Linked DNA regions of Homo sapiens. The protein of the gene in region 4 interacts with the protein of the main gene of each other region in a pairwise test. Each region holds a gene or a part of one and is shown on either strand. Other genes may lie near its edges.

What was found. The genes of interacting proteins can lie anywhere in the genome.
Region 1: the proteins of KLRC1 (region 4) and CD151 interact in binary tests that used the Homo sapiens proteins (3 or more experiments, as listed by UniProt).
Region 2: the proteins of KLRC1 (region 4) and GJB4 interact in binary tests that used the Homo sapiens proteins (3 or more experiments, as listed by UniProt).
Region 3: the proteins of KLRC1 (region 4) and C3orf52 interact in binary tests that used the Homo sapiens proteins (3 or more experiments, as listed by UniProt).

What each region holds. Positions count from the first base shown.
Region 1 is NC_000011.10:835,952-839,331, reverse strand, and holds the end of CD151 (CD151 antigen), read right to left. Parts: intron 3,270-3,380; 5' UTR 3,263-3,269; coding exon 3,179-3,262; intron 3,082-3,178; coding exon 2,890-3,081; intron 2,564-2,889; coding exon 2,489-2,563; intron 2,083-2,488; coding exon 1,978-2,082; intron 1,873-1,977; coding exon 1,714-1,872; intron 1,391-1,713; coding exon 1,304-1,390; intron 1,200-1,303; coding exon 1,140-1,199; 3' UTR 501-1,139; downstream 1-500. UniProt on the Homo sapiens protein: Structural component of specialized membrane microdomains known as tetraspanin-enriched microdomains (TERMs), which act as platforms for receptor clustering and signaling.
Region 2 is NC_000001.11:34,758,466-34,762,539, forward strand, and holds GJB4 (gap junction beta-4 protein), read left to right. Parts: upstream 1-1,274; 5' UTR 1,275-1,323; intron 1,324-1,388; exon of another isoform or gene 1,389-1,670; intron 1,671-2,467; 5' UTR 2,468-2,789; coding exon 2,790-3,590; 3' UTR 3,591-3,862; downstream 3,863-4,074. UniProt on the Homo sapiens protein: Structural component of gap junctions. Gap junctions are dodecameric channels that connect the cytoplasm of adjoining cells. They are formed by the docking of two hexameric hemichannels, one from each cell membrane.
Region 3 is NC_000003.12:112,103,389-112,106,888, forward strand, and holds part of C3orf52 (TPA-induced transmembrane protein), read left to right. Parts: intron 1-3,500. UniProt on the Homo sapiens protein: Has a role in LIPH-mediated synthesis of 2-acyl lysophosphatidic acid (LPA). LPA is a bioactive lipid mediator involved in different biological processes, and necessary to promote hair formation and growth.
Region 4 is NC_000012.12:10,450,578-10,454,544, forward strand, and holds the start of KLRC1 (NKG2-A/NKG2-B type II integral membrane protein), read right to left. Parts: upstream 2,801-3,967; 5' UTR 2,621-2,800; intron 611-2,620; 5' UTR 580-610; coding exon 393-579; intron 3-392; coding exon 1-2. UniProt on the Homo sapiens protein: Immune inhibitory receptor involved in self-nonself discrimination.

The DNA.
Region 1 (3,380 bases), on a different chromosome or scaffold from region 4:
GTGGGGGGCACAATCAGTGACCGAGCCCTGGCTCCCATCTCCAGGGTACCTCTGCCAGACACCAGGCTCTGGTACCTCCTACCCTCTGGCCCCCAGCAGGGCCTATAGGCTCCTCCATGTAAACCCCCTCACCCTACTGCCCCCACCCCACCTGCCTGACACCTCTTACCTGGGCACGGCCCCCAGTCTGCACCCTTCCCACGTCTGCTCCCCACCATGGCCAGAAGGGTTTTGGAAACCATTTTTCCTCTCCCCCAGGGGCTCTGAACACACCATCTCACCATTTAGGAACATGTTCAGTTCTTTCTGCTGAGGCCTGTGCTCAGCTGTCCCTGGCATCAGACCTCCCTTCCCTGGAGCCCCATGGGGGGTGTGTCCTCCTGGCTCTGCCCTTCTTTGTCCTGACACTGGGCGGGGCGGGGGTGGGTCTGTCTGCCCTGCTGGATGCGAGGGCCCTGAGAACAGACCACCATCTGTTACCAGCACAGCGAGCTCGTCCATCTGCTCTACAAGTGTTTATTGAGCACCTGTATGTGGCAGGGATGGTTGTAGGCATCTGGGTACAGCAGTGAACAAAACCAGGAAGGCCCTGCCCCGCAGAGGCACATGAACAGGGCAGTGCACAGTGACCACGTGGCATTTCGGGTGGTGGTGACTGCGGTGGGGAAGACAGCAGGGGCGCTGTCGAGGGAGACGAGGGCTGGGTTGGGAGGGGCAGAGGCCCAGGCCCAAGGGTCAGAGCTCACCTGGCTTCCCCAACTGGGATGGGGCCATGTGGCTGCAAGGCAAGGCCCCAGTTCCTGAAGGGCCTGGGGTGTGAAGGGTTTCTCCCCCTGCTGGGAACGCTCGGCCTTGCGCCACTCAGCAAGGCCCCTTCCAACCTGCATCTGACCACCAGGCAGAGAGTGTGTCTGGGGAGCCCCACAAAACACCCCCCAAACTTCGCCCCGCCAGCCCCCCTCACCTCCCCTGCTGGGCATTGGTGCGCAGCAAAAGGCACTTGAAGCTGCCTCTGAGGTTGGGGTCCCCAGAGGTTATGGTGATGGCACAGGGTGGGTGTCATCAGGGAGCCCAGCCCCTGGTACTCAGTGGTCTCAGCTCAGTAGTTGGGTGCAGCAGCAGCAAGGCCCAAGGCAGGGTCAGTAGTGCTCCAGCTTGAGACTCCTGTACAGGCAGCACGTGAAGATCATGCCAAAGACCTGTGTGCAGAGCCGGGTGGGCGTAAGCAGACGTCATGGGGCCACCAGCCACCGCCCTGCCCCGTGTCCCCAACAAGATGACCGCCACCCCCATGTGCCCTCACCTGCACACAGGCAATGCCGATCCCCACAGCCCCAATGACCCTCAGGTGCTCCTGGATGAAGGTCTCCAACTTGGTGATGCAGCCGCCCTGCGGGGCGCGGATGGGTGTTGAAGGCGGGCCCAGGGGGCACCTCCCACTGGCCCCTACTGCCTCCAGCCTCCAGGGTGTGGCCAAACCCACCCCTAGCACCTAGGCAGCCAGGCCACCAACAGCTCAGCCAGCCACTGGGCTGCCCACCCACTTCCTCGTAGATATTGGAGGTGTGGTCTCACTGCCCACATCCGGCCACTGGGGTGACCCCCCACCTCCTGGTAGATATTGGAGGCGTGTCCCACTGCCCACAGCCAGTCACTGGGGTGCCCCCCCACCACCTCGTAGACACTGGAGGCATGATCCCGCTGCACACCCACCTCCACCTTGTAGATGTTGGAGGCATGGTCTCGCTGCCCACAAAGAGCCACCACCGTCTTGCAGCAGCTGTCTGGGACCACACGGCCACCGGCCTCCTGTGAGCGGATCCACTCACTGTCTCGCCAGTCCTGTGAGTTGTTGCTGCCACAGCAGTGGAACTGCATCAAGAACAAGGCTGGGGTTGAGACCTGGGGCCAGAGGCTCCTGCAGAGGTCCAGGGAGGCCCTGGGGATGCACGCGCCCTCCCAGCACCACCCACCCACCTCCTGCTGCAGCTGGTCCACAGCGCTGGTCACAGCCTCATGGCCCGGCTGGTGGTAGCGCTTGGTCATGGTGTCCTTCAGGTTCTCCTTGAGCTCCGTGTTCAGCTGGGGTTGGGGTGCAGGAAACTTCAGCCTCAGTCTAAGACCTTCCAAGGTGGGGCTGGCAGAGCCCCAGGATGGCCGGTGGGGAGGCCCGGGGCCCAGCTCAGAGCCACAGGGAAGGGCTGAGGTCACACCTCGGCATGAGGGGAGGTTGGGTGGTGCCAGGACCGTCACCAGGGTGACAATGAAGTGCGGCAGAGGCAGAGAGAGCTTCTGGATCCCCTGGACACCTGCCTGACCCCATGTGCCCCTGCAGAGACCTAGACCCCATCTCCAGGGCCCAGTGGCACATTGGTTAGCTCTGGGACCATGGGGGTGGGGGTTGGGGCTAGCCACGCGTGTGCATGTGTGTGTGTCCGCCCCGCCTGTGCATGTCTGTGTCTCTGAATGGCCTGCCCAGGCCCCTCACCTGCTGGTAGTAGGCGTAGGCGAGGATACCAGCGATGATCTCCAGCAGAAAGATGATGAGGAGCAGGATGAAGTACTGGGGGGGGCAGCACAAGGGCACCCTTGTTCTGAGGCCTAGTGCCTAGACCTAGTGCACCTCAGAGCAGAGTCCCCACCCCGGCTCCCCAGGCTCCAGGTGGGGGCTGAGGGGCGGCCACCCTCCCTGAAGCTTTCTTGCGGAGCTGGTGTCTTCCCTCAGCTGGTCCAGCAGGAACGTGGGGACCCACAGGACTAGGCAGGTGTGGAAGGACCGTGACCCCCCCCCCAGGTGAGCACAGCAAGGCACAGGTTCAAAGCCTGCAGCGACAACCTCCTTGGGCCCATCTGCACCACCCCCACCCCGTGGCCCTGCGCCCTCCTGACCAGGCGCAGCAGGTTCCGACGCTCCTTGAAGGTGGCGCAGCAGCCCAAGACCCCAGTCACCATGACGACAGTGCCCGCCACCACCAGGATGTAGGCTGTGGCCAGGTAGGTGCCTGAGGCCAGCAGGCTGATGTAGTCACTCTTGAGGGCCAGCGTCCAGATGCCCACTGCCATGACAGCCAGGCCAGCCAGCTACAAGCAGTACACAAAGGTCATCGCATCTGCCCAGGTCTGATGGTGGCCCGGGAGGGGTGGGGGTGGGGGTGGGGGCAAGGCGACCCCTCCTCACCCAGAAGCAGCAATTGTAGGTAAACAGCAGGTACTTGAGGCAAACGGTGCCACATGTTGTCTTCTTCTCGTTGAACTCACCCATCCTGGGGCTGAGGAGGCAGGGGAGGGGTCAGCGGGGCCACAGCACCGGGCCCCTGACTGGGAGACGGATAGGAGGGGACACAGGGCCAGGCGCGGTGGCTCACGCCTGTAATCCCAGC
Region 2 (4,074 bases), on a different chromosome or scaffold from region 4:
GTGTGGCCCACTGTCAGAACTTAATAAAAGTCAACTCATTTGCTGGTTCCAGGTGCCCTCTGGTTGTGCGGCCTTCGTGACCCTCACACGTTCATGGTGTCAATCTCTCTGCCCCCGTGAAGAGCTGCACTTGATCCAGCCTGTGAGGGGCATCCTCTCTTCCAGAAAGGGGGCCCCCAGTACTCCAGGGGACGTGCTACTTGCTCATGCTCCCATCTAGCCTTTATCCCCCATGGCAAGTTTAGTCCTGTGGGTTGTCTGCAGAGAGAATGGAGCTTAGTCCATGTTGCAGTGGGAAGTTCATGAACTTAGAATGCCTGTGTCGAATCCAAGTTCCACCGGGACTCTGGGAAAGTAACTTAAGCTTCTCTCCAAAATGGGTTAATAATACCTAGCCTGTGGGGTTGTGCTGAGGACTGATGAGCTCATGGCTGTGGACAGGGCTAGCCAGCTGTAAAAGGACACATAAATGTTAATCATTGGTATTAGGAAGTGCTTGATAATGCCTGTGAGAAACGAGGCAGAAGGCCCCTCCCTAGCTGCACATTAACCTTCATCATCCCAGCCAGAACACAGGTCCCAGGCCCCCCACCAGCATATGTGAGGTCACACTCCAGCCTCCCTGGAGGCCTTCCCCAGGACCCACAGAGGATGGACAGCGATGCTGTGCCTGGCCCTGTGCTAACTGGGGCATTTCATGCTGCTGACCTGCATTCCTTGCCTCCACCAAGGCTATGGGTGCCCTGGTCTAGAAAAGTCATAGTTGACCCCTCCCATTTCCTACACAATCCAAGAGCTTCCAGACTCCAGTCCCAGAAATATCCCACCACCAGAATGGGATGCGTTCCTGCACTAAATTAAGGTTGCCCCTTTCCGTAGATGTCAGCTGCTGAGACCTCAGTATCAGGCTTCCCAGGAAAAGGGCAGGAGAGAGGGCAAGGAGGCAGGGTAAGGAGGCAATGGGAAGGGGACAGGGTCAATCCCACTGGTGCTGTCCTAGGCCTAGGCATAATGATATCAGGCTCCTGAACCCCACACAGCAGTCTCACCCACATACCTGCCTGCCTGGGAGCCAGGCTCAGCCATACCCAGCCAGGCTAGAGAGGAGGCGTGGGCCAGGAGAGAAGAGCCGCAGGTGTTTGCTCTGAGTATGTGCCCGGGGAAGTCCGCCCTCCTGCCTGCCCACCCAATCACTCTCGCTTGGCTCATTGGCCCAGAAAGCCCCACCCAGCAAGGGAGAGAGGAACAAAAGCTGCCTCCGGGAGGTCCTGAGGCAAACAGACAAGCCCAAGGACAAGGAAGCAGCTACTGGACCCAAGAAGGGTGAGGACCGAATAGGGCAGGAGGCTGGCCAGGAAGCAAGCAACCAGCTGAGCTGAGGATATCCAAGGGACCTCAGGCTGTGGGCTGGGCTTCAGGGAGGGAGCCAGAGGGTCAGTGTCCCTAGAGGATCCCCAGGGAAGTGCCAAGGAGGAGAAGGAATGTCCTGGCTGACCTAAGGGACGACAGAAGATTGGGGAAGAGGGGGTATCAGGAAGAAATGGGTTTCAGTTCAGTTTAACAAACATCTATTGTGTGTTCACTGGGCCAGGCCAGTGCTAGGTGCTAGGGAGACAGAGGTGAAGAGCCTGCCCTCTAGCAGCTGACAGCCTGGCAAAAAAATAAGACAGGTAAATAGACCATTTGGGTACAGGCGATGCCTCTTGCTCTGAAAGTGTCCCAGGCACACGATGTCTGAAGAGGCTGAGAGCAGAGTCAGGGATTGGGGATGGGGAAGGAGGAGGGTAGGAGGAGGGGAGGGTTGGACATGGGGCCTGATGGGGACTCCAGACAAGGGGGTGTGGAGGTCAGAGTCCACAGGAGAGGGGCCTGAGAGGAAATAATGGAAATGCGGCTAGCAAACAGCCACTAAATGGACAGAGGAGGGGGTGCCCCCAGAGAAAGTAAATGGGGGGTCCAGACCATGCCAGAATCCATCCTCAGTCCTTCCTAAAGCTGGAATGGTTGGAATTCCAGAGGAACCCACTGTGGTCAAGACAGTCAGCCCTCAGGCCCCAGCACCAGTACACGGGTTGGCAGGGATGATATCAAGTCCCCGTGATTCCAAAGCACCTCTGTTTAGTTTGGGAGGGAATGCCAGGGCTGAGAACCTTCCTGGAGCCAGAGGCAAGGAGTAAGGATGCAGATTGTTCTGGGATTTACCAAGGGGCTGATGTGAACGTCCCCAACACGGGGCCAGGCTCTTGTTGGTGTTCAGTAAAAGTGGGATGGATCTGACAACTGATAAGGATACGTTCCCACCCCTCCTGCCCTGGCCCAGCCCTGGCAGCTGATGGGAGAGCAGATCGTCCAATTCAAGCCTTCCTACGGTCTCTTTAGAAGACATGGGCTGAAACTTGGGGTAATAGAGGTTGGCTGGCATATCCATGCAGGATGATTGTCTTCACATGTATCTATTACCTTGTAGAATAAGGTAGACCCTGATTTTGGAACCTGAAGACCAAAGTGCAAGATTAGCTCTGCTACTTCCATCTGTGGACCATTGGGCAGGTATCTCTGGGCCTTCACTTACTCTTTGTGAAATGAGGACAGGGGCAATCCCTACCCTACCAAGTCATTGGGAGTGAAGACATGATGACACGGTGATTGTGAAAAGATTTTGTCAATCGCACCAGCATTAAGGGTGCCCATCTCCAGGTTCCCCCAGGCCTCAAGGCTCCCAAGGCCTGAGTGGGCAGGTAGCACCCAGGTATAGACCTTCCACGTGCAGCACCCAGGACACAGCCAGCATGAACTGGGCATTTCTGCAGGGCCTGCTGAGTGGCGTGAACAAGTACTCCACAGTGCTGAGCCGCATCTGGCTGTCTGTGGTGTTCATCTTTCGTGTGCTGGTGTACGTGGTGGCAGCGGAGGAGGTGTGGGACGATGAGCAGAAGGACTTTGTCTGCAACACCAAGCAGCCCGGCTGCCCCAACGTCTGCTATGACGAGTTCTTCCCCGTGTCCCACGTGCGCCTCTGGGCCCTACAGCTCATCCTGGTCACGTGCCCCTCACTGCTCGTGGTCATGCACGTGGCCTACCGCGAGGAACGCGAGCGCAAGCACCACCTGAAACACGGGCCCAATGCCCCGTCCCTGTACGACAACCTGAGCAAGAAGCGGGGCGGACTGTGGTGGACGTACTTGCTGAGCCTCATCTTCAAGGCCGCCGTGGATGCTGGCTTCCTCTATATCTTCCACCGCCTCTACAAGGATTATGACATGCCCCGCGTGGTGGCCTGCTCCGTGGAGCCTTGCCCCCACACTGTGGACTGTTACATCTCCCGGCCCACGGAGAAGAAGGTCTTCACCTACTTCATGGTGACCACAGCTGCCATCTGCATCCTGCTCAACCTCAGTGAAGTCTTCTACCTGGTGGGCAAGAGGTGCATGGAGATCTTCGGCCCCAGGCACCGGCGGCCTCGGTGCCGGGAATGCCTACCCGATACGTGCCCACCATATGTCCTCTCCCAGGGAGGGCACCCTGAGGATGGGAACTCTGTCCTAATGAAGGCTGGGTCGGCCCCAGTGGATGCAGGTGGGTATCCATAACCTGCGAGATCAGCAGATAAGATCAACAGGTCCCCCCCACATGAGGCCACCCAGGAAAAAAGGCAGGGGCAGTGGCATCCTTGCCGTAGCAGGGTGGTGAGGAGGGTGGCTGTGGGGGCTCAGGAAGCTCGCCCAGGGGCCAATGTGGGAGGTTGGGGGTAGTTTGGTCCCTGGGTCCTGAGCCTCAGGGGAGGGAGGTTGATAGCTACTGGGGATTTTGTATATGGCAACAGTATATGTCAAACCTCTTAATAAATATGATTTTCCCAGTACTTTGCAGACCAGGTGGGGAGTGGCCGATAGGAAAACGGGGGGCAGGGGGGATTAGGTGGACCTCAGAGAGGATGCCAAGACTACTCAGTGAGCACCTGAGCACTGGAACCTCAGATCCAGGCTCACCCATCACCCCCCAACACACACAGTGTGTGCCCCCAGAACATGATGGGCTGTGCCCAAAGGCAGAGGCTACTCCAGGGGCCTCTGG
Region 3 (3,500 bases), on a different chromosome or scaffold from region 4:
AGTAAATATCTTTACTGTAGTGCAAAGCCAGAGGGAAGATTCCTGGCCTCCAGCTGCATAAATGCTGGAGGACACTGTTCTTTTTACTCCCTTAGGTCCTACATTTAATTCAACCTATAGTATTCATTGAGGGTCTGTGATGTGCTAGACAGCATGCCAAGTGCCAGGGCCACATTGTCTGTGCCTTCAGGGGTCTCACAGTCCAAGTACAGGAAGTGACTAAAAAGATCGTTTTATAATAGTGTGGTATGTTCTAGTGTGTTGTACAGTGGCAAAGGAGGGGCATCTGAGCTACCTCAGGTGAAGATGAAGGCATGAAAGGCCTGTTAAGTGAAGTGATGCTCAGGATGAGTTTTGAAATGAGGTAGGAATGTTCTAAATAAAAAAGCATGGGACATTAAAGGATCTGCAAAGTAGTGTACTGTGGCCTTCCCATGCTTTGTGGTGACAGCTGGCAGAGATAAGGCTAAAAAGGAAGGCAGGCGTCAGGTCATGAAGGCTTTCCCACTCTTCAATAAGGCACCAAAATATTTTAATCAGCAGATTGACACAGTTAGATTTTTCCTTTTAGCCTTTCTGTGTTTTGGTGGAGAAAGCCAGGAGGAAGAGATCAGTTAGAAGGTGTTACAATAGTCCAGGTGAGAAATGAGGGAGACTTGAACTAGGGCAGTGTCGGGAAAATAAGGAAGATTTGCGTGAGATTTAAGAGGTATTCTCACTCAATAAGAGTCCATGACTGATTGGGTGGTGGTGAGGAGAGCATGACTCCAAGCTCCAGTTGAGTGATTGGGCAGATGGATGGCGGTGTCAGTCATGGGATGAGAAACCCAGGAGAATGAACCCTCTGTGGAAGATGGAAGCTCTGCAGCCAGACTAGGACCGTTGGGTGGGGCATCCTGATCATCCTGTCAAAGACAAGGTGGTTCACAGCCAGACCCAGAAATTTTGATAAGAAAATCTAGGCAAGAGCAGGCTGCCCTCCATTAAATTCTTCTCTGCCATTGCTAGGTTGAATGGAGTGAGTGCTGTTTATCTAACTTCCATTCGATTTGATTCCTACAAAAGCTCCTGAAGAGGCGATTCCATCCAGGTCACATCAGAATCAGTTTCTGGGTACCCACGCATGAGATTTCATTGCTTCTTTTATCACAGGAGTTGGTATCCTGTGATGATTACTCCAGATTTCTCTTTCTCCTTCTCTTCATTTATATCTTTAAATTTTTTTTAGATTGTTTAAATTTATTTATTTATTTTTATTTTTTATTTCCGTAGGTTTTGGGGGACCAGGTGGTATTTGGTTACATGAATAAGTTCTTTGGTGGTGATTTCTGAGATTTTGGTGCACCCATTACCCGAGCAGTGTACACTGTGCCCAATTTGTAGTCTTTTATCCCTCACCCCCACCACCTTTTCCATCAAGTCCTTGAAGTCTCTTCATTTATGTCTTATCTTCACCTCCTTTTCTCCTTTCCTTCCACCTGCTTCCTGGGGCAAGTTGCTGAGTGAGACGCTTCTTGCTACTTTCCTCTTGGCTGCTTTTTTAATGGAGAGGTTTTTGCATTTGCTGAGCAGAAATAAGATGAGTCAGCATCCACATGTGTCACCTGTTGCATAGTAGACTGTCTATTTCAAAGGTAAATGAATGTTCATTTTTCATTTTACAACCATATATCTTGCACAGAGTCAGATATGAGGAAATTCTGCGGGTATTTTGAGCTCATCACTAGGTAGTGGCAAAAGAACAGGGACTGACATTGATGCCTGTGGTGGGTCCACAGATTTCTTTGAGCCAGTTTCTTCGCTGATAAATGGAAACCAGTGCACTTTCTCTGTGTATCTCAGGTGCAAATGAGATTACATAAAAATAACTTGAAAAACATTTTAAAAGAATTATCTTATTTACAAATGATCAAAGTAAGGCATAGTGAGGTGACAGATTCCTGCCCTTCATTCGTCAACCAAATATGCTCAGGAACAAAAATTAGCACCTAAAGGTATTGCTGTCTTATTGTCAGGTCAATAACTCCTTTCTTCCATTAGGTCAAGTTTCAGAAGTTTCTGGATATAAAAGGTAAATGGAAGTGGGTATTTGTGGGGGAAAAATTATTTTTTTCTCTATACCCACATTCAATGCAGAACACTTCTTTGGCCGTGTGTGTGTGTGTGTGTGTGTGTGTGTGTGTTTTCCACACCAACCAATTATCTGCCACCAGCTGGGTGTCTTGCAATCCAGTTCAATTCTGACATGATCTGCCTGGAGTTAGTGCAGACCCCATAGTTTAAGGGTTCAGCCCCACAAAACTTCCCTCATTTAAGATGCCAGTTACGGGAGGCTGAGGCAGGCGAATGGTGTGAACCCGGCAGGCAGAGCTTGCAGTGAGCCGAGACCGTGCCACTGCACTCCAGCCTGGGCAACAGAGCGAGACTTAGTCTCCAAAAAAAAAAAAAAAAAAAGATGCCAGTTCAGTTACAAGTCTAGGTTGTCACTTGTGCTTCTGACCAACCAGCTGCAAATTGGAGGTCTCCAAAACCCCCACCTTGGGTTTGGTCATTTGCTAGAATGGCTCACAGAGCTCAGGGAAGCATCACATTTATGGGCACACTGTAGAAAATAGAGGATATCAAAAGCCAGATAAAAAGGTACATAGGGCGGACACGTGGGACAGAATGTGGGCATCCATGTCCTTTCAGGTGTGCCACTCTCCCTTGTAAATGTGTTCAGCCACCTGGGAGCTCTCCAGACTCTGTCTTTTAGGGATTTTTATGGAGATTTCCTCACATAGGCATGGTGGATTATTAGCTTGCTTTCCAGCCTCTCTCCCCTCTGGAGGATGGGGGTGGAGGTGGGGCCAAAAGCTTCAGATTTCTTCTTCTTCTTTTTTTTTTCTCCAGACAGTTTTCACTATATTGCCTAGGCTGATATCAAGCTCCTGGCCTCAAGCGATTCTCCCTGCTCAGTCTCCCGAGTAGCTGGGACTACACGCATGCACCATCCCACTCCACCACACTGGCTGAAAGTTCCAAGCTTCTAGCTGCGGCTTGGTCTTTCTGATGATCAGCCCCCATCCAGCAGCCCGCCAAGAGTTGCCTCATCAGAAATAAAGACACTCCTATAACCCAGGAAACTGCAAGAGATTTAGGAGCAGGTCTGTGTCAGGAGCTGGAGTAAAGACCAAATGTTAGAGTAAAAGATGTACCCGGCGCCCCTGTCACTCAGGAAGTAACAAGGGTTTTAGGAATTCTGTGCCAGGAACTGGGGCAGAGACTAAACAGTATACATATTGTTATTATATCACAGTATTGGAACTTTATGCCCTTTCCCTTGACTTTTCTAAACACAGGCCCTGCCATGTGTCACTGCCACAGTGTTTTCCTCTCAGGGTTGGGGCCATTACTCTGCTTAAGCCAGCCTGTGTGACTACCACACCCTGTGCATGGGTTAGGAGTTAATGATGGCACCTGCCTTATTCTGGAAGCTGGTCTCTAATTAGCCACTGCAT
Region 4 (3,967 bases):
ATCTGCAGGGAGAGAAATGGGAACAGTGCGAAAGGAGAGGTGGATACAGTCGTTTAGAAGATTCACAGACAAGAGAACCTGAATGCACAGGAATCATACAGAGAAACTTGGACCCCAAACCCTCATCTCCCATTGTAATCTTTTTCTCAGAATAATATACCATTGAATTTTCAGGAAAAATAATGCTCCATGAATTATTTGACAAAGACTACAAACTTCAACAATGAGTTCAATCAGTCTTCATACTTTACATTGAAATAGCATATCTCAACTTGGAATTCTGATCTTTGCAAATAGAAGATATATGAGCACTCCCTTCTCTTTCCCCACATTCCTGTACCCCAAGCTGCACATCCTAGACTGTTATATTGAGGATCTTTTAAATGCTTTACCTTTGCAGTGATAGGTTTTGTCATTCCCTTGAAAATCCTGAGAAGCTTTTTGAAGGTTTAATTCCGCATAGGTTATTTCCTGTTCAGTTGCTAAAATGGAGTTTTTATTGCCTTTAGGTTTTCGTTGCTGCCTCTTTGGGTTTGGGGGCAGATTCAGGTCTGAGTAGATTACTCCTTGGTTATCCATCTCTGCAGTGTGTGATGTCAGGGACTGTACTCTATAATAACAGTAGTTAAGAAGTTAATAAATGGTTTATATACAGGATTCCCTAGTGCAATTAAAAGGGTGAGGTGGAGAACGAGTATTGGAGCTCATTTTGCATTAAATAATCTAAAGTTCTTTCTCTGATTTTCTTCAAGCCTAAACACGTTTCTTATGAATATTTGTTTTAAAAAAAGATTTTTAGGCCGGGCGCGGTGGCTCACGCCTGTAATCCCAGCACTTTGGGAGGCCGAGGCATGCCGATCACGAGGTCAGGAGATCGAGACCATCCTGGCTAACACGGTGAAACTCCGTCTCTACTAAAAATACAAAAAGTAGTCGGGCATGATGTCAGGCGCCTGTAGTCCTAGCTACTCGGGAGGCTGAGGCAGGAGAATCTCTTGAACATGGGCGGCAGAGGTTGCAGTGAGCGGAGATTGTGCCACTGCACTCCAGCCTGGGCGACAGAGTGAGACTCCGACTCAAAAAAAAAAGATAAATTTTCTGCATTTGACAAAATATTATTGCTGGGGCAATGAGAAGCAATAAATTACTAAGGAATAAAGAAGTTCAGGAATAAAAATATATTTCTTAAAGTCTGATGTTTTACCTGTGTTAAAAATTAAAATGTTGTATTAGAAAAACTTCTGCACTCATTTTTATGTTAATTTTGAAATCCAGTAATGGTTAAGACTATGTGGTCTGCACATGAGTAATAGTAAAGTTGACATATATATATATAAAAATTTCTTGCACTACATTACTTTTAATTAGTAATTTATACACATTAATGAAAATCAATAGAGGTAATTAAATGGTCTTTTCTTAATGGCTGAAATGTTCTAAGAAATTATTAAAAATTATTTATTAAAAATTATAAAAAATTAAATATTTGTATATGACAGAAAATGCTATGTGACACAGTTAACTTATGCATAACCTAAATAGTATTAGGAACACTACATAAATTGTTAATACTTACAGAAGTATTGGTAATTTAATTAGTAATTGGTAATTTATTTCCTGGCTAAATTATGAACCAAAAAATGATAAATAAAAGTATAGGTAATTCATGTTAAAGCACATTTCATTTAAACTTATAGAATGATTTTATGGTTGTCAAAGTGAGTAAAGGCCACTTTAGTTGTATAAGTACTTGTAAAATTTCAGATAATGTAATTAAATCATTTAGTCAATGGGCTCTGGAGTCAGTGAGATCTAGAATTAATTCTAGCTTTGACACTTATAATGTGCGACCTTTAAAAAGTTATTCTATTTTTAATAACCCAGTTTGTTAATCTAAAATGGGCATAAGAACATATAAAACGTTGCATGTAAAACATTTACCACTCAACCTGGCACTTAAAGTTCTCAATAAGCATTAGCTACTTTAATTATTATTTTAGTCACAATTGTTATGTTACTGTTTCTGATTCATGTCAGTTAAAGCATGGAAAATAAATCTTCAGATAAGTCTCCTATGTCCATGCGCTACATCTTTTTTTGCAATATTTTGATCAATTTTTAAAAAGTATTTTTATTGCTTTGTAATACCTTTAGCATTTTATGTAATCTACCTCATTCTGATTTTTATTAAAAATAAAAACTGCTTTTCTCTAATCTACGTGTCTGAGGAATTGTATTTGGCTTTCATCAATTGATTGATTTATTTTAATAATCTTTAATGGCTAAGCTAAATATAAATTATTATTCAAAGATACATGATGTACTGATTACAAAATACAAAATTAATTGTTCATTATTGTGATGTTAATAGCTTTCCCTTAAACGATATTGATCAACAAACCCACTAGATTTCCACAAACAATAATTTGAAAACTTTAAGAAATCCTTCAACATATTTCATATTTTAGGTTTTTACCCTGAGTTATTCAAATGAAGACAGCAATATTCTACTTTGATTTTATTGTATATTAATTATACCTCCTTTGTATCATATTGAGCACTTGAAATCACCCACTAAATGAGGTAGGCTAGTAGAGAGTTGGAGAGTAGCAATACATACCTTCTGTCCCCAGAAAGTCACACATCCTTTAGTGGAGAGGCCAGGTTAGTCTCATAAAAAGGCCTGCTATAGCTGTGTAATAAAAGGTGAAATTTAAAGGCATAAATCCAAGACAAGAACAAACAATGCCTGCAATCTTCGCAGACTGCCCTGTGAAGGCTCAGAGTGAGTCAAGAGTGGAAAAAGTAGATTTCTCATCAACGTGTTACTAAGGTTTGAACAGGAAATTCTACACATGGGCTATTGTGAAATCAGTTTTATCTCATCACACACCTCCAAAATATAGGATACTTGGTCTATTAAAAGTACAAGGTTGACTTTGAAAGTGTGTCATTTAGTTGGTTCATTTTTCAAGTGCCTATGAGAATTTTTTTTTTTTCTGTCTTGATCACGAACATTGTCAACCCTCACCTTGTTAAGAGTGCCTTTTAGACTAGGTTGCTAAATCTTAACATTGCATACTTCTTTTCTTTATATTATTTTATTATGTCACTTCCATTATAATAGAAAACATTCTAAAACTCATAGTAATATTATCAACTGATATCTACTGATTTTTTCCTTAATTATTCTGAAAAATTACTGCAGTAATTACTCAATTGATTGTAGCTGGCACAAAAAGCATCATTGCCAAAGTTATATTATTAACTTCTCTTAGTTCTTAAATTTTTGCACTTAATTTTTAAAAATAGATTATTTAATCTTCAGATTACCCTTGATAAAAATATCTTGGATAGGTAAAATATTAATCAATTTTGAAATATATTAGCATACCAGAAATTGAAATATTAAATAGCTATTCATTACATTCTTCATTTATTCATCCTCCGCCATAACAAATTATGTCGACTTTCATAGAAATATTTAGTTGTAAATGACAAAAACTGAAGTCAAACTATGTATGGGGAAAAAGTAATTTTAAAATCTTACTAGGAGGAAAGTCAGTAAATTGGCAGAATAGGTGGTCCCCCACACATATGCCCCCACAGCAACAATAATTTTTCAGCCATCCACAGACAAAAGTTCCTTTGAGGGAGTTTGGAATTCAAGTAGGAGTTTGTAAAATGCCAGTGGAACCCAAGACCTAGGAAGGTTGTTTTAGGGAATAGATTTGCATCCAAGTGGCAGACTTACCAACAGTGATTCCATCTCCAGACCTGAAAAGGGACCCATCCTCCTGTGCTTGCCTTCAGCCCCATTTAGGCCTTGGTCATGCTGCCAAAACCATTTGCCCAGGGGCCCAGGAGGAGACTCACACACTAGTGTCTCAGGAGGTAGGCATATCAACTGTAGTCTCAATGTAGACCCTGAAACAGCCCTCTAACTTGGCTTTAACTAGTGTCAGCC